4 linked regions of the Homo sapiens genome follow. The protein of the gene in region 1 interacts with the protein of each later gene in a pairwise test. Each region holds a gene or a part of one and is shown in the gene's direction. Other genes may lie near its edges.

The links.
Region 2: the proteins of DNAJC5 (region 1) and PPFIA4 come close enough for resonance energy transfer, tested with the Homo sapiens proteins (one study listed by BioGRID).
Region 3: the proteins of DNAJC5 (region 1) and NECAP1 come close enough for resonance energy transfer, tested with the Homo sapiens proteins (one study listed by BioGRID).
Region 4: the proteins of DNAJC5 (region 1) and CADPS come close enough for resonance energy transfer, tested with the Homo sapiens proteins (one study listed by BioGRID).

Annotation. Positions count from the first base shown.
Region 1 is NC_000020.11:63,933,124-63,936,556, forward strand, and holds the end of DNAJC5 (dnaJ homolog subfamily C member 5), read left to right. Parts: 3' UTR 1-2,888; downstream 2,889-3,433. UniProt on the Homo sapiens protein: Acts as a general chaperone in regulated exocytosis. Acts as a co-chaperone for the SNARE protein SNAP-25. Involved in the calcium-mediated control of a late stage of exocytosis. May have an important role in presynaptic function.
Region 2 is NC_000001.11:203,043,486-203,050,532, forward strand, and holds part of PPFIA4 (liprin-alpha-4), read left to right. Parts: coding exon 1-13; intron 14-445; coding exon 446-610; intron 611-893; coding exon 894-968; intron 969-1,210; coding exon 1,211-1,300; intron 1,301-1,882; coding exon 1,883-2,074; intron 2,075-2,355; coding exon 2,356-2,502; intron 2,503-2,762; coding exon 2,763-2,897; intron 2,898-4,741; coding exon 4,742-4,825; intron 4,826-5,097; coding exon 5,098-5,229; intron 5,230-5,432; coding exon 5,433-5,495; intron 5,496-6,190; coding exon 6,191-6,282; intron 6,283-7,047. UniProt on the Homo sapiens protein: May regulate the disassembly of focal adhesions. May localize receptor-like tyrosine phosphatases type 2A at specific sites on the plasma membrane, possibly regulating their interaction with the extracellular environment and their association with substrates.
Region 3 is NC_000012.12:8,078,201-8,085,275, forward strand, and holds the start of NECAP1 (adaptin ear-binding coat-associated protein 1), read left to right. Parts: upstream 1-4,073; 5' UTR 4,074-4,088; coding exon 4,089-4,183; intron 4,184-7,075. UniProt on the Homo sapiens protein: Involved in endocytosis.
Region 4 is NC_000003.12:62,872,417-62,879,585, reverse strand, and holds the start of CADPS (calcium-dependent secretion activator 1), read left to right. Parts: upstream 1-4,169; 5' UTR 4,170-4,556; coding exon 4,557-4,997; intron 4,998-7,169.

The DNA of each region.
Region 1 (3,433 bases):
ATAAAGCTGAGGAGGAGGCTGTGTGTGATGGCTCTGGCTCGGACCAACCAGATGAGCCTCCTGAAGCCCCCTTCCCTGCCTGCCTGCTGACCCGTGGCCCCAGCTCACTCATTGCCCTCAGCAGCCACCCGAGGCTGTGCAGAAGGGTAGGTTCAGGTTGACCAGGAAGCTGCCAAAAGGGACATGGATATGAGGATACATCTGGACGTGCTTAGGAACAGGGTGCTGGTTGAGGGCCCCCAGCTGACCCCTACTGCAGATCCGCATGTGGACCATGAGCCGGCTGCCAGCACTAGGTCCTGGGCAGCTTTGTTTGTCCCACTTTTCTTTGTTTCTTCTCACTAAAATGATCACGAAGACCTTTGACAAGAGGAGAGATATGCACTGTGATATTAAATTAGAAATAATTTATCAAAATCAGACCTCTCCTAAAAGAATAAGAAATTCATTGTTTGGCCCATCCTGAAAGGTGAGGTGGCGAGACAGTGGGGTGCCTCCGTGCCGCTTCGTGCAGCAGCAAGTTCAGCCTGAGATGCTGGCTGTACTCAGCCTTTGCAATTTTTGTAGATGTAGCTTAGGACGTGAGTTATTTTTCCGCAGACTGGCCAAGAGCCAGGTTCTAAGCTTGGACCTAAGGTAGAAAGCTGCCCATCGGGGGCCCTAGCTCAGCCCCACCAGGCCCTCTGTTGGGCCTGCACACAGCTCTGTGGCTAGAACACTCCAAGGCCCTTCGGTACCCATCAGAGTGGGCCCCTTGCCAGGTGGCTTTTCAGTTACAGAGTCCAGTGGACCATTTTGTAGAACCATGCAGCTCCCTGCGGAAGGTGGGGTAGGGTGGGAAAGAGGAGCAGGTCTGGAGGTTTGTGGAACCCAGTCCCCTGCAGAATCTGTAAAACCTAATAAATCATGGTTGTGGCCATTCTCACGGTGGTGATTGTGATTAGACGACCCCCGGGAAGCCCAGACACTCGGGGCCTGGAGTTCCTCCCCCTGCCTGACCTAGAAGCAGAACCGTTTTCAGCGCTCTGCCCTGTTGGCTTTAAGGCTTTGTCTTAATTTAAGGAAAAAGATCCTCCCGGGTTTTATTTCTCTCTTTCTTGAGTGGACTGTTTCCCTATAATTAAAAGAGGTGGTGAGTCCTGGGGCAGCTTCCGCGCCTCCCTGTCCACGTGCTAACAGATCAGGACGCCCCCAGCACCCCTGCCTGCTTTTGCTGGTGGCAGTGACGGGACCCCGACTCCTCACTCTCGGGCCGCAGACAATGCTGTGAGCAAGTGTGGCCATGGGCACAGAATGTCCCTTTGGACGCCGCTGCTGGGGGCTGCCAGGGGCCCTCTGGGGTCGTGCTTTGAGGCCCGTCCGGTTCACGAGGGGGTCCGGGCAGCACTGACTGCTTCCGACCTGCAGGAGGCGTAGGAGCGGCCCTGCGGGCCCTTTCACGGCAGCTGCTGCTGTATAGATTTGTCTCCACTCAGTGACGTGGGATTTTTTTGTCTTCCTTTTGGCTTTATTTTTAAACTGCTTTAGATATTACTGCTCAGTGTTTGTGAACTTTCCTAGTTCTCTATGTTGTTAGTGCAGCCAGCACCCAGTGGGGACCTACTAGAAAAAGGAACTGGCATGCACACGTGCCCAGCAGGAAAAGCTTCGTCTTCACGTCGGCTGCTGCCATCCAGAAGAGGCCCTGGAGCCTCACGCCGTCGAGGCTGCTCTCAGGCGTTCTGTTCCGGGCGAGGCTTGTGCTGCAAGGAAGGGCACCAGCATGCAGGCTGCCACTGGAGGGTCCGGGTGCTGCGGGCAGAGTTCAGCGCTTGTCCACCCTCCCTTAGCTCTGACTCAGTGCATCCTACTGTGGGGACATCTCGTGAGGGGACACGAAATGACTGATCTCACCCTTTCCCAGTATTCAGAGCTGTGAACCCCTGTGGCGCAGGACTGGCCTGTGTCTGTTATTTTGGTTGTAAATCATTCTCCTGTGGAATTGGCAAAAGCTACATTTTTACTGTCCTTACCAGCAACAGTTTGCGTCGTCACATGCTGTGAGTGTGGGCTGTGGTGTGTCCGTGTGTGTACATATGTGTATATGTATATATCACGCAGCAGGAGTGTCATTCATGCTGCTGTCCCCTGGTGAAGTGACAAGTACAATTAAAGGTGGCTCTGAAATGGCCTCTGGTTTCTTGGGAGTCGGGCAGGGACCTGCAGGAGGCTTTCCCAGCAGGTGCACAGAAGGAAGCGCTGAGCCCACTGTGTGCAGAGGGTGTGTGCCCAGGGCACTGCCACGGCCCCCACCAGCATTGGCCTCTGCTCTGCAGGGTGGGGTGCCCATCCTGGGGGCTGTGTGTCATGCTCACCTGACCCAGGTGTGTGTCCCGGTGTGAAATCGAGGAGGGGACTGGAAGCCCTTCCCTGCCTTGAAACATGAAAGCTGATTTTCTGAGCAGCAGATACGGTCAGTGGCAAAGCTGCATCTGAAGGGCGGCCTGGGAAGGGGCCCTGTGCTGGCCCCGGGTCCGCCCCAGAGGAGTCCACACAGCACCACCTCCAGAAGGGGCTGGGCCCGGGGTCCTGCAGGCGGCACCTTTTGGTAGAGTTTGTTTCCCTGGAAAATGGGGAAAATGTTTCAAGCCAGGTGAGGGGGGAAGTTAACACTGAAATATGTATTGTTTTTAAAAATCAAATGCACACGCATGGAAGCTGCTTGTCCATGCACTGGTTTTGTCACTGGCGTCCTGGAATCCGACCGTGTTGGGGTGCAGGCGCTGTCAGACTCCGGCTGATCCTGGCTCGAGCACACACATCTAAGGGCCAGGCTGGTTCCGCATGGTGATCTCCGTCTTGTATGTCTGAATGTTGGCCTAAAATAAAGATTACTGTTGTAAAATAAATGTTTTCACTGCGGACCCCACGTATGTCTTACTCGCTAGTCCCGCAGATCCCTGGTTTTGGAGAGCAGCAGCTGATCTCAGCCCTCCACACCCCTTGCGGCTGGAACCTTGCTTCCCTCCTGCCTGGTCCAGATGTGGATAAATGCCCCCTCCTCTTGATTGTGTTTTCACCTCCGTTTTCTAAATACCAAGACTGGAGCAAAGAGGCCAAGCGTGGTGGCTCATGCCTATAATCCCAGCACTTTGGGAGGCCAGTGTGGGAGGATTGCTTTGAGCCCAGGAGTTCAAGACCAACCTGGGCAACAGTGAGATCGTGTCTCTACAAAAAAGAGTTTAAAATTATCTGGGTGTAGCCGTGCCTGAGGTCCCAGCTCGTCAGGAGGGAAATCACTTGAGCATGGGAAGTCCACGCTACAGTGAGCTGTGGTCACACCACCGAACTCCAGCCTGGGTGACAGAGGGAGATCCTGTCAACAAACTAACAAAAACTCAGAATAACGTAACAAACATCTTGAAATCCTCTATTCTGACTTAAGAAAAACGAA
Region 2 (7,047 bases), on another chromosome or scaffold:
GAATAACACACGGGTAAGTGGGGATGACCTTGTGTCGCGCGCGCGCACGTGTGTGTGTGTGTGTATGGGGGTGTGTTGTGAACACCTTGACCAAGAGAGCAGGCAAGAGTGGGGCCAGGCACAGTCCTAGCTCAAGCCCCATCCTTCCCTCTTCCTGTCTCCCATCCTGGGGTGAGAGTTACATCGTTTAACCACCAGTGCTGGGCTCTCCACCTGTAGTTGCTGGTTCACAGAAAGCTCAGGGTCCTGGGGAGAGGCCGGGGCAGTCACCTTGAGTAGTATCAGTTGGGGCGGGAGCTCTGTGCCCATTTGGAAGTATTTCAGTGTTTTCACAGTGGGGTGGCTGTAACTCATGTCTGCTCGGGGATCACATGGACCCTGCTTGTAGCCCCTGGGGCACATGCTTACAGCCCTCCCTCTCACCCTCCCCTGCTCTCCCTGCCAGCTGCTTCTGGAACATCTGGAGTGCCTGGTGTCCCGCCATGAACGGTCACTGCGGATGACTGTGGTGAAGCGCCAGGCCCAGTCACCTTCGGGGGTCTCCAGTGAGGTGGAGGTGCTGAAGGCCCTCAAGTCACTGTTTGAGCACCACAAGGCCCTGGATGAGAAGGTGCCCACCTGCCCGCCAGCCCCCACATCCAGCCAGGCTGCCCTGGAGCCTCCCATGTATCCCTTCTCTGAGATTTCCACATCCGGTATTTAGGGAGCACTGGCTCCCTCCAAACATTGTCTTAACTTCAAGGTCCTCCTGTTAGGCTCCCTCCTGCAAATGTGCTGCTTAGTAGGCCCTTCACTGTCCTCATGCTCAGTGGTGGTAGACCAAGCCCAGTCTCTTCCAGCCTGACTCAAGTGGGGTCCCCCTTTCTTCCTCCATCTCCCCTTACCTCGAGCAGGTGCGAGAGCGGCTCCGGGCAGCGCTGGAGCGAGTCACCACCTTGGAGGAGCAGCTGGCAGGTGCCCACCAGCAGGTAATCTGCCTGCTCACCCTCAGTCTGCAGCTCCTGGAAGTCCAGGCTGGTTCACCCCTGTGCCCTACTCTGTTTCTTGTCAGATTTCTCCCTGCCATGGCTGGAAGCTGCTAGGCAAGGCTAGGCTGAGCACCTCTTTCTAGGAGACATTTTTTAACTAAGACAGGGGCTTTGGAAGGGTCTGGAATGTATGGGAGGTTCTCTTCTCTTTGACTCATTGCCCTGGGGCTTGTGCCCTACAGGTGTCTGCCCTGCAGCAGGGGGCAGGGGTGCGGGATGGAGCGGCAGAAGAGGAGGGGACTGTGGAGCTGGGGCCGAAACGCCTGTGGAAGGTAGGTCATGGAGAGCTGTGTAGCAGGGGTCATGTGTTCCCCAAGGTGGGAGGTTGGAGGCCCGGCTCTGCCTTAGTTCAGTAGACTAACTGCTTGAATTAAATTTGAGGCTTTCTCTGATATTCCCCCTTCTCTTTTCTTCTTCTCCCTACCCCATCTGCAATGAAATCTGTAGATTTTTATTTTAGTGCCCAACACATGCTGGGCACATCATACGCTTGTCTGCTTGAATTGTTAGGCACCATCTGCCTCATGTGGCAGCATCAGGCAAGATTCCTTCTCTGTCTGAACCTTTGTTCCCCCAGTCACGCCCCTTTCTGGGTTACAAGAGGCTGGCATAGCAGATAAAACTAGAAACTTGTTTTCAAGAGAGACAAAGGATAGCAAGGTGTTTGGTCATTGTCAGGAGTGACCTCCTGGGGCCCAGAGGGAGGCAGTTGTAGCCAGAGGAGTGCTGTGATGTTGGGGGCAGAGCCTTGACCTGCTCTGGGTGTGCTGTTCCTCCTTCCACCCCTGGGATAGGGGAGTGGGGTGGGTGGGATGCTGCTGTGACTCACAGAGCTACTGTCCCTATCCCTGGAGGAGGATACGGGCCGGGTAGAGGAGCTGCAGGAGCTCCTGGAGAAGCAGAACTTTGAGTTGAGCCAGGCCCGGGAGCGACTGGTCACCCTAACAACAACCGTGACTGAACTCGAGGAGGACCTGGGCACGGCCCGCCGGGACCTCATCAAGTCGGAGGAGCTGAGCAGCAAGCATCAGCGGGACCTCCGGGAGGTGCGTGAGGGCGCAGGCCTGCTCTGTGACCTCATTGTGGAGCGTGTGGAGGGAGAGCCAGGCAAAGGCTCTGGGGCGTGAGACTGAACACCTGCCTCCTTGCCTGGCTCCATTGTTGGGGGGCGGTCATGGAAGGGGTGGGCCAAAGCCAGAAACTGACAGGAGAGTGTAGCTCATGCCCCTTAATGGGTTCCAATCAGCCAGGTGTGGGTGGGGAGGTGTAGACAGGATGGGGGCAAGGAAAGGCTGGTTACCGTCCTTCTTGTCCCCTCTTCTCCCAGGCTCTGGCCCAGAAGGAGGACATGGAAGAGCGGATTACTACACTGGAGAAGCGCTACCTGGCTGCTCAGCGTGAGGCAACATCCATCCATGACCTCAATGACAAGCTGGAGAATGAGCTGGCCAACAAGGAGTCCCTGCACCGCCAGGTACCTCCTCAGGGTGGGGTGGGGATGGGCATTGTACTTAGCCCTGGAGGTGTCCTCGTGAACCTACTGGTGATGGCTGAGGAGCCCCTGGGGTCCTGCAGGTCACCCTTTGAAAGGGGAAGTCAGGCGTCTCGGGCAGCCAACAACCAAGATTGTCCCTTGCTGCTTCTGACCTGTCATCTGCTCTCTGCTGAGGCTGGGGTGGGGGTGGGGGCTTCAGTGCTCCCTTTTGAATCACTTCACCACCCCCACATTGCTAGTGTGAGGAGAAGGCCCGACACCTGCAGGAGCTGCTGGAGGTGGCAGAGCAGAAGCTGCAGCAGACGATGCGCAAGGCAGAGACGCTGCCAGAGGTGGAGGCTGAGCTGGCCCAGAGAATTGCAGCCCTCACCAAGGCAAGTGGGCCAGGGGCCTGGGATCTGCCTCTGTCCCCCATGTTCTGAGCTCTCAGGGAGCCAGGCAGGGAAGGGAGCGCGTGGGAGGCGCACTGGGCCAGGAGCCAGAAAACTGCTTCCCGCCGTGTGATTCCAGGGAGCACACTGCCTTGTGCCTGTCAGTTGGAAGAGTAATCCCTGTCCTCATCACCCTGCAGGGATGTGACAGTCTCATAAGAAGGGGTGTAAAAGTACTTGAAGGAGAAGAAGCTATGTTGATGCAAAGTGTTTTTCTTTTTCTTTTTTTTTTTTTTTAATCCTCTACACCGTCGTGGTGAACACTTTCTTTCACTTGGGGCTGGAGCAGAAAGATTAGGACTTTCATCTCTGGAAAGGTGAAACCTTAGAAGAGAAATGGTATATATATCCCTGAAGGGCAAAGGGGTGAGAGTTAGGTTGAGTACATCTTTGATTGCCAAATTGAAGCTTCTAGATCTAGGGACTGCTCCTGGTTGTTTGAAGGCTGCAGTTTTAGGATGAAGAAAAAAGAATACAATTTTATTTAATGGATACTTTATGAAGTAGTAATTCCTGAGAGGTGTGCTGGCTGAAAACATAATAGGTTCTGGAAGAGCCAGGTAAATGCCTGGATTTAGACATGCAGGGGTTAATCAAAATAATTTAGGAGCGTTTTCAGCTGGTCAGCCTCATATGGGATCTTCGAACCCGTGGCGAGAAGAAAACCGGTGTTTAGGAAGCACCAGGCACAGTGCTCGGAAGGGAGAGGCTGGCCGGCCAGTGTGCAGCTCAGCTGCTTCGAGGACGGAACCTGCAGCCTGGCTGTGTCCCAGCAGACCCAGGACCAAGACTGCTTCTGCCACTGACTGTCTCTGCGACCTGGGAAAAGTCATCCCCTCCCTTAACTGGGCCTCAGTGTCCTTATCACTATGTTGGAGTTAGACGGGATGGTCTCGGAGGTCTTTCCAGCCTCGAGGAATGAAGGATTGGGTTGAAATCACAGCAGAGGATGTTATGTGTGGGCTGCTGAGCAGTCAGCCTTAGTGTCTCCCAAAGCTGACATGAAGGCACGGGCTGAAATGATTAATACAGTCAAGTGAGTCATCGCAGGAGGAGTTTAAGGAAGGATTTCCTGACTATAAGAGATGTGGCTTTCTAGAATATCTTGCCAGCAGAGACAGTAGGGTCTCCATCTCTGGACATCCATGACTGGAAAGGGAGACTACCCCACCTGGGCTGGTTTAACAGCAGAGCCGTAACCATGCGGGGCTAACATTTGTTGAGTGCTTACTATGTTCTCAGTGTTCGCCTTGGATTATTTCATTTAGTCTTTGTGATGGTCCAGTGGGCCTGGGTGCTATTATTACCCACATTTTACAGTTGTGGAAACGAAGGCACATAGAGGTTTGGTAACTTGTCTAAGGTCACACAGGTGGTAAGAGGGAGCCAGGATTTGAACCCAGGCGGTGTGGCATGAGCCCATGCTCTTCAGTGTGGTTCTATCCATCTGGAGGCGTAGAGGTTTATGGTAGCTCATGCTTTCAAGTGGAGCTTTTTCTGGAAGCATGGGGATTATTTACAGTCTCTTGAACTGCTAGCTTCAGGATGTTTTAAGGCTAGGCCTGAGCGAGGAGGAGGCAGGGGAGACCTGGCAGGTATTGAAGTACCTGGGAAGAAAGGCAATGGGGATGGTGGTCCTGCTCCAAGATGATAAGTGGAGGCTGAGCGTCACTGGTACTGGGGGCCATGATCCCCAGGGCCACCCTGGCACCAGGGTGCAGGGGATGCGGGGCCTGAGCAGGAAGAACAGAGATCTGCGGGCTGCACCGACCCATCCCTGCCCCTAGGCTGAAGAACGGCATGGCAACATTGAGGAGCACCTGCGGCAGCTGGAGGGACAGCTGGAGGAGAAGAACCAGGAGCTGGCACGGGTGAGGGCACCAGGCCGGGCCCTCAGGCCCCCTCCTTCCCGCAGGACAGGCTCCCAGGGCGGTCTGTGGAAGGGGCACGGAGGAAGGGCCTGGCCAGGGACACAGCCACAGAGAGTGGGAGGAGGCTGGCAGGTGAAGGGGGAGGTGGTCAGGAGACTGGAGAGAGTGGCTCCCAGAGGATGAGAAGAGGACAGGGGAGGGAGTCAAACCCCAGCAGGAGAGGGTGGTCCTCCCTGGGAGGGCGGCCTGGTGCGAGGCAGACGGCTGTGCAGGTGCGCCAGCGGGAAAAGATGAATGAGGACCACAACAAGCGGCTGTCGGACACAGTGGACCGGCTGCTCAGCGAGTCCAACGAGCGTCTGCAGCTCCACCTGAAGGAGCGCATGGCTGCCCTGGAGGAGAAGGTGCCCAGAGGGGCGGGGTTGGGATGCGAGAGGTTAGTGCTGGGTGTGGGGCGGGGGGAGGCGGGACTGTGATGGGCGCAGGCGGGGTCTCAATGGGGTGGGTGGCCAGCCTGGAGAGGTGGGGCTGAGACTGCACACCCAGAGGCTCAGGTCTGGAATGGGAGAGGAAGGCAGGGGCCTGGCTCACAGCTGCTCTCCCCCAGAACACGTTGATCCAGGAGTTGGAGAGCTCCCAGCGGCAGATTGAGGAGCAGCACCACCACAAGGTACCCGGCTGCGGCCAGCCCCGCCCAGCCTGGGAGGGCCGGGTTGCAGGGAGGAAAGGACACCCTGCTTTTAACGCTGCTGCTCTGATACCTGGCAGTGTTAGTGCATATGTTAGTGCACTACATACATTATTCCGTGATTTCTCACTAGAGCCCATCATGGTAGGTGCATTACTGCCCACAGGGAAAGAAGAAACTGAGGCCAGAAGCATAGGGCAGAGGTGGACAGCAGAGAGGCAGGGCCCAGTGAGGGGCTCCACCCCAGGATTTGGAGGGAGCTTCAAACCCTGGTGCAGCCAGAGCCTGGTGATTCTGGGAGGATTTGCCTCCGTCCTGGCCTCGGCAATGTCTGTGAGGTCTGAGGGGGTGCTGGGGCCCTCTGCTGCCCAGCCTCATCTGCTGTGCATCTGTGCAGTAGTGAGGGGTCGGCAGGCCTAGGCTAGCAGAGCCCTCCCCAGACAGACCCCCTCCTGGCCCTGCCCCTGCCCATCCTTCCACTCACTCTCTGGTTGGACCTCTTCTCTTTTGGTGTCATCTGTGGGCCTGGCCTGGGGCCCCTGGCTTTGGACTTTGCAGTACATTCTTCAGCTTCTCCCCAACTCTGCTGTCCTCTTTGTCCCTCTCTGACTCCCACCCTCCCTCTCTGCCCCTCCCTGGCCCCCACTCCCGCCCCCACCCCGGGTCTGCTGGCACAGGGCCGCCTGTCTGAAGAGATTGAGAAGCTGCGCCAAGAGGTGGACCAGCTGAAGGGCCGAGGGGGGCCGTTTGTGGATGGCGTCCACTCCAGGTACTGCAGCGCCAGAGGCTGGGCATGCCAGGACGGGGTCCTGATGGACCGTGAGGAAGGAGACTTCCTTCCAACAAAAGACTGCCCAGGACCTCAGGGTCCTCCTCCTGTTCAGGGTGGGACACTGAGGCTCAGATAACTTGGTCAGAGTCACCCAGCTTACTTGGGCAGTTTGGGAGGGAACACCTGTCCTCCGAGGGCTGCTGAGAGGCGAGTCATCAGACAGCCAGTGCTCTGTCCCCGCTGTGGTAGGACATAGGCCATGATTTCTGCTTCCTTGACAGAGGGCACACCCCTGAGAGAGGCCTGCACATCCCTTGCTTAGCCATGTCCTACAGGGCCCACTGGTAGGGAGAGCCATTCACTCCAGTTCTCTTGAGAGTCAAGGACCACCTGAGTTCAGGCAGCGGGCAGAAAGGCAGCAGGAGAGATTGGAATGAAGCATCAGAAACTTCCTTACTGGAAGTTGAGACGCCATGGCAATCCTATGGACTTGGCATCCCTTTTCTTGAAACCATTGTGAGAGATGGAGCTTATCTCCTAATGCTTGAATTAGGCCCATGTTTAGGGAACCTCGGGATTTCCCCCACATTTTGTGGAGCGATGGGTATTGAATTCAGACCTCGAGCCTGTCCTCAGTACCCAGGCCAGAGAGGTGGGGTGAAGACAGGGGAGACTGAAATGGATGGTGCCACTCAAGGTTCATGGCTCTTGGCTGTTTTCTCTCCAAACCAAAGTCTCTTAGATCAGAACCCTTGCCGTTCC
Region 3 (7,075 bases), on another chromosome or scaffold:
GCAACTTCAGGATTTAGGAAAATTATACTTTAACAAATACCATTGATAGCAGTACCCTGAGCAATGATAAGTCAGAATTTAATCTGTGATAAATACCTTTTTGTGTGTGCGTAAAGAAGAGCTGGGAAATATGTTACTGGTAGGGCTAAGTTAAGAAAACCATAAGTTATTTTCATGTTTAAATGACATCTAAAAGTGACCAAGATTTGAGATGGGTAAGGCCTCCATGAATTTCAACAATGCATTTAAAAAAACAAGCTTTTGTTAAACTTGGTTAAATCATATACTTACAAAGCCACATACAAGAACACTAGCTTGACTTAGCACAGTCTACTCAGCCCAGAACCTGTGAGCTGTGTAGCTACTACCCCCCGGTGGTGGGCAAAGATAAGTTCGAGACAAGACATTTTTAATTTTTTTATTTTAGTTTATTTTTTTTTGATACGGAGTCTCATTCAGTAGCCCAGGCTGGAGTGCAGTGGCATGATCTTGACTCACTGCAACCTCCGTCTCCTGGGTTCAAGCAATTCTCCTGCCTTAGCCTCCCAAGTAGCTGGCATTACAGGCATGCACCACTATGACCAGCTAGTTTTTGTATTTTCAGTAGAGACAGGGTTTCAACATGTTAGCCAGGCTGGTCTTGAACTCCTGACCTCAAGTGATCTGCCTGCCTCAGCCTCCCAAGGTGCTGAGGTTACAGGCGTGAGCCACTGTGCCGGCCCAAGACATTTTTAATTATTTTGATTGGGAAAGAACAAATCATCCCTGTTAAGGCAGGCTGAAATGATCATTCATTTAGCAAATAAACATACAGAGTTCTTACTATAGTCTGAAAACTGTGCTAGATACTGGGAAAACACAAACCTGTTTCTTTCCCTTGGAAAACAGAGATGCCAACAAGCAGTTGAATGCAATGTGCTAAGAACTAAAACAGCTGTACAAATGTTGTGGGAGCATAGAGGAGGCAGTTACCAGTTCTATTTAGAGAAGTTGAGGAAAACTTCTGAGATAAATTGATATTTAGATTAGATCTAAAGGCATCTTACCAAGGAATGAACGGGAAGTGCATTTCAGTCTGGACAAATATGTTCAGCATGAATAAAAATGGCATGTATGGAAAATTATGGCAATGTGATCAGTTAAGCTAGAGAAGACATCGTGGGTGAGAGTGAGGAAGACTGTATTTTTTTCTGTTTCTGTTGAGATGAAGCAAGAGAAGGGAAATTTAAATTTATATAAAGAAAAAACATGGTTAAGTAAGGGTTTTTTTTTTTTTTTTTTTTTAGGTGAAAGGACTTGAATATACTTACATGGTGAGGGAAAGGGGTGAATGGAAAATGAGTTTTAAGATACAGGAAAGAAAGGAGATAACTGATTAACCAGGTCCCTGAGGAGATTGGTCCCTGAGGAGAATCCAGGGCACACACAAGTGGATAGGAGAAAGAATAGATGAAGATGCAGATAGGAGTATGAATAGGGTGTCATTAAGTTGAGAGAGTTCACACAAACTTTATTTTCTTAGGGAAGTAGTAAGATGTTTTACCTGTCAAGAAAGAAAAAGAGAAGACTTAGAGTTGAAGGCCTGAAAGGGCAGCAAAATTTGGAACAACCATTAAAGGGAATGAAAATAAAAACTAGCAATGGCAAATCTGGGTGTTAAGGGCAAAGCTGAGACTCAAACCCATAAACTTTTAGGGACACCAATCTTTATAATTGTGTGATTTGCTTTTGGAGAATGATGGAGGGAGATGGTTGGAATATATAAGACTGGAGTCTTTTGGGTTGGCTGTGATGGAAAGACAAAGAGGAAAGGAAACTTAAGGATGCTGGCAAGAGAACTGTTGAAACAAGGAGATGGGAGGAATAAAGAGAAGGCTAACAATGTGCAGAACATGAAGAAGAACAGGTGAGGTAGAAAAGAGAGGTAAAGATAGTTAGAATTTATGTCAAGAGATTGTATGGCTAGGAAGAGTTAACTATATGGGCTTTGAAATCTCTAAAAGATTTGGGAGAAGAGGAAGAGTATAAACTAGTAAGAAGGTGAACCAGAAGCCAGAATCCTCCAAAAATGATTGCCAGTGATAACACAGAACAGAGAAAAAAAAAGAGGTACAATGTGGTGTAGTCATATGACCTAGGCTTCAGATGAGATCATAGGGTCAGAAATAAGGAACAACAAGTAATAAACCACTTTTCTGTCTTTATTTTTCTTTTAACATGTATTCAGTGACAATAATAGCTATATAAATCTTAAACAACAGAGAAATATATGGAGGAGAAAATAAGTTTCTTTCCCCCACTTAGCCTTATATCCTTTGAAAGCCTTCTCAATGCATTTACATGCATGCATATATAATTTTGGGGTGTTTCGACAAAAGTTGATAATGCTGTATGTTTTTTGCAGTTGGCTTTAAAAAATCTTGGATCTCTTTCAATGGCTAACCCTTTAGTTCAAAACATCTCATAGTAATAGATATACCATTAACCATTTCCCATTGATAGATGGTCATTTTGTTTCCATTTTTTTCACTATTACAAACAATGCTGTAGTATTATTGTACATACTTTTTTGTGCATATAAGGATTTCTCTACAATATTTATTAGTGAAACTGCTAAATTGAAGATTACGTCCAATTAATATTTTGATAAATTCTGTTAATTTCCCTTTTAAAAATGCCGTGCCAATTTACATTCCTGCCAACAGTGTATGAGATTAGACTGTTCCTCACGTCCTCGCCAGGGATAAATGTGGTAATTCTTTTTGAAATTTAAGATATCACTTTCCAAGGTGGAGCAGACAAATTAGAGGCAGGTTTGCTTTTTTTTTTTTTCTCATTAAACTTTTTTAATGGGTCTCAAAATTCTGTGACAAATTTTTGGATGTTTCCATTAAAAAGTACTGATTTAAAAAACTAATAACTTAAAACTGCCACACGCAAAAAAGAAAACCAGTGGTCCACAAAACATTCTCCTTTCCTTCTGAAGAAGAAAACCAGTGGTCCACAAAACATTCTCCTTTCCTTCTGAAGGTTTTACGATGCATTGTTTTCATTAACCAGTCTTTTACTACTGAACTTAAATGGCCAGTTGAAACAAACAGTTCTGAGACCGTTCTTCCACCACTGATTAAGAGTGGGGTGGCAGGTATTAGGGATGATATTCATCTAGCCTTCTGAGCTTTCTGGGCAGACTTGGTGACCTTGCCAGCTCCAGCAGCGGTGAAGACTGCTGCTGTTGTAATGAGGCAGGCTTGAGTTTCTGTCTCAGTTTTGCCACTTGCTATCTGTACTGTCAGGGTGTTGTGGTTAAGTTTACCTTTGGGGCGCAGAAAAAGCATATTTATGGTGAGAGTTCGGTAGCATTTATCATTATAATAGAACTGGGAGCTAATATAGGCCATTAGATAGTTCATTATGCTTCCGATTTTATCAGGAATTGGGTTGATCCCACGTATAGTCTATTTAACAGGATCAAATTTTCCAAAAAGATAATCGGAATACACGCCGAAAGTGTGGCAAAACATTTTAACAGGTGTCGTCCTGAAAAATCGGAGATAAAGAGTGTAAGGCACTAAATCAAGTTGGGTGTTTTCAGCGTTTAGACTCTGGAGAGTTGAAATCCACGGTGTCTATGACCAGATCATACATCATTCTCTGCAGGTACCTCGTCTGGGACTACCGGCTGGAGGTTGCCTCTTTTCTGCCAGGAGACTACAGTTAGGAAGTGACTCCTGTAAGAAAATCCGTCACGATTCAATATGGTCCTCGTCCTCGTAGGACACTCCAGGCACCTGCCTAGAGTAAGATGGCGCTTTTCGTAAGCACCTCTCCAGGACAGAGATTTCCATAACGAGAGTCACGCACTTGCAGGCCATCTTTGCCATTATCCAAGACGGTGAGCCGTGCAGCCTCATCGTTTCCAGGTTTCAATATGGCTCCCCGCGTCACCGAAAAGGTTAATCTCAGAAACTAACTTGAACTCGCGCGGAAGTGACGCAACAGAAGTTGTCGCGCTTTGCATCTCCGCCTCCCGTGCTCCGCCTCCGGTCTTACGTTTCGCCCCCGGCAGCGCCGACAGCGGACCCAAGATGGCGACCGAGTTGGAGTACGAGTCTGTGCTGTGTGTGAAGCCAGACGTCAGCGTCTACCGGATTCCGCCCCGGGCCTCCAACCGCGGTTACAGGTACTAACCCCGAGGCGCTGCCGCACACGCGTACTCTGTCGCAGATGACAGCTTCCTTCTCAGCTAGCACGCTGTCCGTCCCTGCCACTACTACCTCTGTATTGTCACCTTGCTAGCCTCCCTACCTGGGTTGTCATCTCCCTGACCACCTGCTCCATCTCCACTCTGGACTGTCATCACCATATTTCTGCCGTTTTTTTTTTTGTTTTGTTTTTTATTAAATTACCACTCTGCGTTATTCCACTCTGCCTCTCCCGTAATCCCCTGGGGCACCCATCTGCTCCCCATCATGCACTTTCAGTCGTGCTTGCTCCATTGCCAGTCCCCTTTCATTCGCTCTTCCCTGCGTCCTTCAGCTTATCATCCTCATCCTTTCTCTCTCTCTCTCTCTCACACACACACACACACACACACACACACACACACACACACACCTTTCCAGTTCCCCATGCACATTTATGGGTAATCGTGTTGCTTGCCACTCTGGATTATCTGATTTATTTTTTGTACTGTTGTCAATTTCGTCACCAACTGTCATCATCCACCATTCGGTTTTTCCTTCAGCAGTTTTACCAGTGAGCAAAGGTTATGATCATAAGCTTTACAACGGTTGTTCATTCTGTTTCTTCTCATTGTATTTTCTTGATGATTATATAGTATTTTCTGTCTTCCTTCCCTACCTCCCTTCTTAACCTCTCCTACACCTTTTCCCTCCAAAGTTGAGGCAGCATTTTTCTCTGTTGGGCCTAACTACCTACCTTGTAATCCAATGACTGTGAGGTTCTGAGGATGCTATAGGACATTATGTAGTTGAAAGACAGTTCACTGGGCTTCATGTTAAACCATATGAGTGTGAGCCCTTTCCAAGCCTCAATTTTCTCATCTGTAAAATAGAAAAAAAAACCTGTTAGTGATGATACCTGCGCTCTTATAATGTGCTTAACAAGGGTTTTTGGGAGAGTAAAATTAAATCATATAATGGATGTGAAAGAATGTAGGAAATGCAATAAAGCAGTTACAAATACTATTTGTTTGTTCTTTTTTTTTTTTTTTTTTTTTTTTTTGAGATGTAGTCTCACTTTGTTGCCCAGGCCGGAGCGCAATGGCTCAATCTCAGCTCACTGCAACCTCCGCCTCCTGGGTTCAAGCGATTCTCCTGCTTCAGCTTCCTGAATAGTTGGGATTACACGCATGCACCACCACACCTGGCTAATTTTTGTATTTTGAGTAGAGATGGGGTTTCACCAAGTTGGCCAGGCTGGTCTTGAACTCCTGACCTTGTGATCTGCCCACCTTGGCCTCCCATAGTACTGGGATTACAGGCGTGACACCACGCCCAGCCGTCGTTTTTTTTTTTTTTTTTTTTTGTTAGAGAGGCAGGGTCTCGTTCTATCATCCAGGCTGGAGTGCAAGTGGTGCAATCACAGCTCACGGCAGCTGTGTACTCCTGGGCACAAGGGATCCTCCTACCTCAGCCTCCCAAGTTGCTAGGGCTACAGGCATTGCCTCACAATGCCTGGCTAATTTTTAAATTTTTTTGTGTAGACAGGATCTTGATATATTTCCCAGGCTGGTCTCGAACTCCTGGCCTTAAGTGATTCTCCTGCCACAGCCTCCCAAAGTGTTGAAATTACAGGTGTGGGCCACTGCACCTGGCCAAGATACTGTTCTTATTCTTCTCTCTGACCCACATCATCATTGTGATTTTTCCTCCTGGCATTTATCATTACCTTGGCTGAAAAGTTACCCTCTCCTTATGTCTGTTATTTTGCCCCTTACTGGCGTTTTATTCATCATGAATCAATATTTTTATGCTTGCTGACCTGTGCGCTGGGCCCTGTGGGTTGCACCTTTGGCAAAGAGGTAGCAGTTCTGTTTTTAATAAGCTTTTAGTTGGACCCCAAACTGACCCTAAGTAGAAATCAACATGCTTTTAGATGGTAGTTACAGGTACTATATGAGTCACTTAAACATCACCTTCTTTGGGAGGCCCTATGTGACCCTTCCATTCTGGTTTAGATATGCACCCTGTGTGCTTCCATAGCACCTTTTTCTTTTTCTTTTTTACTTTAAGTTCTGGGATACATGTGCAGAATGTGCAGGTTTGTTACATAGGTATGCATGTGCCATGGTGGTTTGCTGCACCTATCAACCTGTCATCCTCGCCCCTCCCCCGAGAGGCCCCAGTGTGTGTTGTTCCCCTCCCTGTGCCCATGCGTTCTCACTGTTCAACTCCCACTTGTGAGTGAGAACATGTGGTGTTTGGTTTTCTGTTCCTGCATAGCACTTTATTCTTATCTCTATTCCAGGGCTCTTCATTTTGTATTGTAATGGATTACAGTGGATTGTACAATGGATTGTTTAGTCTCCTTTTTTCTCCAGGCTAGACTGTGAACAACTTGAGATCTTTTTAACTTTATATTCCCAGGGTCTAGCACAGTATCTGGTACACTTTGGGCACCCTGTAAATGTTGACTGAAAGAAGAAATCAGTAGATTACACAGAGAAACCTAATCACATAAAGTGGCATTGATTGAACTGTTAAATAAGGTCAAATAGCTCATTACTTCCAACTTTAGGAGTTAAGACTCCTAAAGGATATGATACATATTGAAGTGGGATTATATTCTTTTTCTTGAAGTTTTTTTTTTTTTGAGATGGAGTCTGGCTGTGTTGCCCAGGCTGGAGTGCGCTGGCGCAATCTCAGCTCGCCACAACCTCCGCCTCCCCGGTTCAAGTGATTTTCCTGCCTCAGCCTCCCAAGTAGCTGGGACTACAGGCACGTGCCACTATGCCCAGCTAATTTTTGTATATTTAGTAGAGACGGGGTTTCACTGTGTTGGCCAGGCTGGTCTCAAACTCTTGACCTCGTGATCCGCCTGCCTTGGCCTC
Region 4 (7,169 bases), on another chromosome or scaffold:
TTAGGCTACTTAGGCAGATTATCTACGTAATATTTTATGATGTGGAAACAGCCACTTGGGTACTTTTTTTCCCTTTTATTTGATGGTATGTCACTGTATTTCAGAGTCAATGCAAAATGACAAAACCCTCCATCTTGTCCATGTAAATACCAGTATAAACTGCATTTCAATCCATACCACATCTAGTTCTCACTTCTATTAAAAGAAATTGTGTACACAAGAAACATGATTACTCTTGTGAATAGTTGGCTTTCAGAATTTGACTTAAATATTTATTGTAAAATGTGTTGTCCCACTTTTCTTTTTCATCTTCTTAAGTAATGAGAGTGATTTTCCAAGACCAATTCTTGCAAGTAATATTATTTATCATTCCAAAACATGTTTTGTTGCCTAGAGTGAAAGATACTTTGGTGTGGCTCGATTTTTATTATTTTTAGCCTTATGATGATCCTTTAATTTCATCCTAACCTGCTTCATTTTACTTTAGTAAGAATCATCATATGATATAAAGAGTAATGATGAAAAGTAGGTTTCTCAAACAAAATAGACCATTTCTAATCCCTGACAATACTATCTAAAACCAGACAGGCATCAAGTAAACAAATAAGCAACTCTTCTATTTTTCAGGATCTAGTTCTGAATTATTTGATTTCTTTTATGTTCGTTTCCTTCTAATTATTTGTGTCCAATTTCTTGTCATCTCATTTATGGCACATCCCTCTCAGATCACTGGAAAAAAAATGTAAAGCTAAAATTGGTTGAAAATTGCTTTTTATATATCATCTATTTTTGTTGTCATTCCAGGGGAAGTGAGTACTATTATCCCCCATTTTACAGATGAGGATACTGAATGTGAATCATTAGTTCGTTCAGGATAGCTCTACTATTAAGTGGTAGAGGCAGAACTGTCTGGGTTGAGAGGCCAAGCATTTAACTTGACCTAAGGCACACTGTAAGATCAAATTAACCCATTTTTGGAGCTTGCAAGCTAGTCTTATAATTTAAACAAAATTAAATATTGATTAGATGAGATGATCACATCTAGATAATATGAAGTTTATTGAGATTTTTTAAATATTTAACTTAGCTAAATTATTTTTTAGTAACAAACCCACAAAAGCATCAAAGTGGGCATTAAACTTAGTTATATTTGATGGAAATGTGTTTTATGTGTGACATAAAGAAGAGGTTTGTTTTTACTAAACTATCAATTGCCAGCGAGTCAGATATTTCCTCATACTTGTGGCCTTTGACACATCGAGGCAAACACTTCATAGAAGGATGGAGATCATCTAGGTTTAGATTAGGAAATCCTGGCTTAGTGTCTCAGTCATTTCCATTTTCTGCAGACTTTGCTTTTGGGGGTAGGATTACAAAATTCAACGGTATAGCTTCTACTTTCATGATATGGTCTCCAGATAGTTGATTAAAATGTATTCCATCATCTTGAGGTTATCCAAGTTTTCTACAGAGCAGAACTGGATGTGGGGCAAACATGCAAGCACATAAAATAGCTTAAGGACATAAATTCTTAGGTGTATAAGAATCTATGGTGGAATTCTACTTTTAAAAATAAGAACACAAATATTTACAAGAGGTAGACAAAAGTTAAGAGACTTTGCATGTGTTCTGTGGTCATCTTTTCCCCTGTTTATCAAAATGTACATTTAGGGAAGTCACAATCCCTACTTCAGATGCCTCATAAGTTCTGGTTGGCATATCTTATCTTCAATACTAACAAATATTTAGAATATCTCCAAGTTGACTTTCGGCTAAGGTAAGAGATGTCTTCGAAAGGGTGTATATTTTGAAAGACAGCAATGTTCACCATTTGAAAAAAATATGGAAATATTTTTGGTAAAATCTATGTAAGCCTCTTTGATTGAATACTCTTGGGGGGGATTGAGAAGATTGTTAGATTTATGTAAGCAATGTTATGTTTAACACCCAAATCATAGGTTTATGTAATTTACAAAAGGTGGATATTAAGTTTCTATATTAATGACTATACCTGGAAAAAACCCACATAATCCCAAAGGAGTTTGTAAAAATATGAAACAAAACTTTATTACAGCAATTGTGAAATTCCAAGTGTTTTTGTAGATGGAATTCATGGCCACTTTGCCACCAATGTCTGATGTGACAGTATTTAAATGCCTAAAGAGACCTTAGAAGAAATATTTAATCTGTGAATGACCTGTTTCTGGCCTTCAACAGCATCTCCTCCCCAAATCATCACATACTCCTTAATTTGTGTCCTAAACATGGTCCCTTTATTTCGCCAAATGGATTATAATTTCAGCTCTTTCCTCCTCCTGTCACCTACCCATACCCTGTTTCCATAACACTCTTTAACCTTACTTGATCCCTTGCCCTATTACTCTGGCATTGCAAACCACTTATTCCACTTGCAATACCTTCTCTTTTCACCACCCATGTATATGGTATGTTCCCTTAAGATTTTATTCTCTTCTTTGAGAAATATATGATTCCCTTCACTTCAAGTTGCTTCATTCACGCAAGCTTTTTGCAGTTTACTGACCTGGATTTGTTGATATGTTGCCTCAGAATAAGTGCTGTCAATCTTTTTCACATGTTTATGTTGTAGCTCCCAAAGGAGATTATAGACTCTTTAAGAGAATGCCTTCTAAAAATTCTATCTATCCCAAGCACCTAGAACAATGTGTTACTTCATTAAAAGGTGCTGGATAAAGGTTGTTGATCAATTGATTGGCTTACTATATTTTCTGTTCCAGGAAAACCAATACCACATGATTTGAACATCCTTTACTTCTTGAGAAGAATTAAAAAGTGAGGCTGCAAAACTGTCACAATCCCCGCACTGCTCAATTTTTTTTAAATTTTGTGTTGTTACCAAATGTGTGATGGCCACAAAAGTTGTGTCCTTGAGGTATGGTGGTGAAGTCAAATATAAGCCATCCAAGTACTTAACTCAAAAGATCAAACAGAATTGTTGAGGTTAATGTGAAACCAGTTGTTCTGAGTTCATCTGCAGGTCTCAAACAGGTCACTTTACTATCAAAGCTAGTAAAACTCATGGTAAATTATAAAATACGTAAAGACAAAAGTGATTTAAACTTTAAACTCATGCTACACTATTAAAATCACTCCCACGAGTATCTACAGATAATTAGAGAACTAGAAAATACATAAATATAGGCGATGAAGTGGAGAGGTCTCTAGATAGCCTAAGTTCTGAAGGTGGCTGGCTGGTGGTTTGTTTTCATCCATCTGCGTGCGGGTCGCAGGTTACATTCAGCACGTTGGCCAGCTCCCTCGTTTACCAGGTTTACTGGCCTAAGTGAAAGGAGCACGGGGAAGGCAGGCACCATCTGCTGCTTTGTATTAATAGTTTACCCGAGAGGCAGGGGTGAACAGAGTGCGACAGTCGACGCATTAGATGTTGACGCCGCTGAGTTCTTAGGGTGTCTTTGTCTGATCGCGGGGTCCCCAAGCCTCCACCGAGCCAGAATGGAGGGAGGGTTAAGCAACCAGAAACCCTTCTATTTTTCTGGTAGGCTCACCTCAGCAGAAAGCATTCCCAGGTCTTGGGAACTGAAGAAGATTCATCATAGATTTTGGGGGTGGGGGTAGGCAAGGTCGGGGGCGCTACATAAATGGTTGAGTTGCCTGGTCGAAACACCAATCCATTCAAAATTTGATTCACTTTTATTTTAATTAGACTGGGCGCATGCGGAATAAGTTGCTGGAATCAGAGTTTACACAGGTGGGACAAACACGCTGCCCAGCCCCCACGCCCCCCACGCCCCAGGTGTAAAGAAGCCTGGGGAAAGGAGATGGACCCTTTCTTTCCCGTATAAGATCTCACGGACTTCCTCCTCCTAAGTAAGACCTCTCGATTTAGCGTCTCCAAACAGCCCGCTCGGCTGGTTTCTGGATTTCTCCCTCCCCCAAGAACTTTTTGTCCGCGGGAGGGGAAAAGGGGTTGAGGCAATGAGAGCCAGATATCAACAAAAAAATTATCCACGAAGCCGGCAGGGGAGGAGGGTGGCAAGGTATTGGGGTCAGAAGTACTGAGGCTCTGAGGACGCTCCGCGCTCTCCCCCCTCCAGCCCTCTGCAGCAGCCCTTTACGCCGCGGACACGGGAGAGTTAAGCCAATAAACACGTAAGCGCCGCTCCCTCCCCAATCGGCAAGATGCCTCTTCGGCTCTTGGCTGCATCGACAGCTTGCAACACTCGGCATCTTTTCTGGAGGCGCCTCCTTCAGCAGCCGCAGATGGCATCCGGCTGCGGGCTCGGGGCTCGCAATTGATTCTCCCCCTTGCCCACCTCGAGTCCACGGACGCACCTCTCCCTTCCCCTCCTCCCTTCGCGCTTCTGGGTCTGAGCCCAGCTCGCGACCGCCGGGCAGAGGATCAGTCGCGGCGGCCGAGGCTGAGCAGCAGCGCTCTCGCTCCCTGACCTGGGGAGAAGCGCCCACCCGGGAGAGCTGATCCCCGGCTGCCTCCAGCGCCCCCCACCTTTTGCACTCCAAGCCGGGGGCTCCAGAGACCCCGCTCCCCAGGCGCCACTATGCTGGACCCTTCGTCCAGCGAAGAAGAATCGGATGAGATCGTGGAGGAGGAGAGCGGCAAGGAGGTGCTCGGCTCGGCCCCGTCCGGCGCGCGCCTGTCTCCCAGCCGTACCAGCGAGGGCTCGGCCGGCAGCGCCGGGCTGGGGGGCGGCGGCGCCGGCGCCGGAGCCGGGGTGGGTGCAGGCGGCGGCGGGGGCAGCGGCGCGAGCAGCGGCGGCGGGGCCGGGGGGCTGCAACCCAGCAGCCGCGCTGGCGGCGGCCGGCCCTCCAGCCCCAGCCCGTCGGTGGTGAGCGAGAAGGAGAAGGAAGAGTTGGAGCGGCTGCAGAAAGAGGAGGAGGAGAGGAAGAAGAGGCTGCAGCTGTATGTGTTCGTGATGCGCTGCATCGCCTACCCCTTTAATGCCAAGCAGCCCACCGACATGGCTCGCCGGCAGCAGAAGGTAGGTGCGCCTGGGAGGCCCAGGGAGCAGCACCCGGACGTCGCCAGGCGGGCGGGGTGAACAATGGGAGCTGGCGGCGCAGCTGGCGAGGAGGAGCAGGAGAGGTGGAGACCGCGCCCTGGGGAAAGGGCTACGAGGCCCCCTCCCAGCGGCCGGGCTCGCCCAGGCCCAGCCCAACCCAGCCTGGAGCGCTCCTGGAGCTGACTGGGACCGGCGAGGGCCGCGGAGCGCAGCGCCGCTTGCTCGAGCCCCCCCAGCCCGGGAGCGTTGGTGAGCGAGGCAGGCAGGTCCCGCTTTGTGGACCGAGAGGCTCGGGGAGTGATTTGCTGCCCGCGGCGCCCAGAGAGGCCTTGCTCGCTTGCAGGGCTCCCAGCGCTCTCCAGCGGCGGGCGGCTGCGCTCAACTCCGGGCCCGCCCTCCTGGGCGTGCGTTCGGCGGGCGGGGGCAACGGCAGGTGGGGGCGCCGAGGTGGAGGGAGAAGAGCGTCTTGGAGCAGCGCTCCGCTCGCTGGGGCAGAGAGCAACCGCAGGGGCAGGCGGGAGAAAGCAAGCCCAGAAGGCGAAGCTTCCCGTGACTCTGCGAAGGGCACCCTCCTCTCCCTGCCCGGGTCAGCTGATCACCGACTAGCGTCGCCAAAGTGTCCTCGGGCACTGCTTCCTTATGGCTGGAGTTCTCACCAGTCCCCCTGACCCTTCCTCACTGACCCCAGAGCAGGGGCACGCCCTCTGGTCCTTCCGTCCGGGTCAGCCCCTCCGCCGTCCTGTCTTTGACCCTATTCTCCTCTTCCCAAGGTGACTTCGCCGCCACCTTCTGGCTCGCCTGGGTCCTCCAAGCCCTGCCACTGCTGCCTTGATAAAGTACAGCTGCAAAAAGCTTCGCAATCTGAGGCATCAAAAGCTTTTTCTGTCTGAGGCTGGGGCAAGGCTGACATAGCTCTGGGCTGCCTTTGATGTTAAAAAAAAAAAAAAAAAGGCGCCTATTTCTATCAGCTGTTCTTTAGCTGGAGAAAGGGATGAGGGGTACTGCAAGATGAGGGGCAGTGGCGGGGGGTGGGGACAGAAGAAAAGCAGGCAGGAACCCAGCTGGAGTGAGTTAGTGAAGAAAGTCAGCGTTCTGTTCTCTTTTAAATAAATTTGCAGCACTTGAGCTATCAAAAAAGCCAGTCAAGCCCCACACAGAGGCAGTGTGAGGCCAGTCCTAACCCCATCAAGACTGTGAGACTAGTGTCTGAAAATAGTGAATCTTTCAGTTGCTGCCATTTAAGAACAAATTACATGTTGCTGTAGTAGCATTAGGTTTTCCGTATTTATCCACCCTTACCTTGAGTTAGCACAGATTTCTCTGTTTGTTTTGCTTACATGTGTACACACACCACCCAGCACTGATGATTTATTTCAGCCATCACGAGCTTGGATATCAGTTTCATTAAAAGATAAAACTGATTTCCAGGGTGAGAGACAGGAGGTGGGTTACACACAAGACTCTCCATCTTTATCTGTGGCCCCTTGTTTTTTCAATTCGTATTTTTGACTGCAGTAGAGCAAAAGTATCCTCAGAGAAGTAAAAGTTTTTGGGATATTATTTTAAGGCTGGATGTTGAGTCCACGGGGCCTAATAGTTCACATTTCAGTTTGGAATTCCTATTGTAATTGTGCCTTTACAGCATAGGAACTTCAACCTCCAAAATCTATCCCAGTAATAACAGCACCAGCCAAAAATATTCCATTCCTTTGACAATGAAAACTGTGACTTTAAGTGTTAGGTCGAAAGGGGTGGGGGAGATGTCTAGAGACATTTATCAAAGTCTCTAGAGGTCTGTCCTTTAAATAGTTGCTTAAGTCCAGAGCTAGCATGGAGAAAGAAATCCCACAGAGACACAGTTCTTCTAAACAGAAACTTCAGTTACTTTAGAGATTATTATAAGGCCAGATTTTTCTGATCTGATTGTATGCTTTACCTGAATCCACTCAAAGCTGTGGTTTTGAGGGGCATGCTGTTTGCATTTTTACACGGGAGCTTAACCTCAGAGAGACTCCAGGACAGATTGATAACACTGACATTTGGTCAAACTATTCTTAGTTATCACAGCAAACTGTTGCTAAATACATATCCCAGTGAAGCTATCCCAGAGCTTTTGGCTATACTGGGAAGCTAAATTTAAACAACAACAAA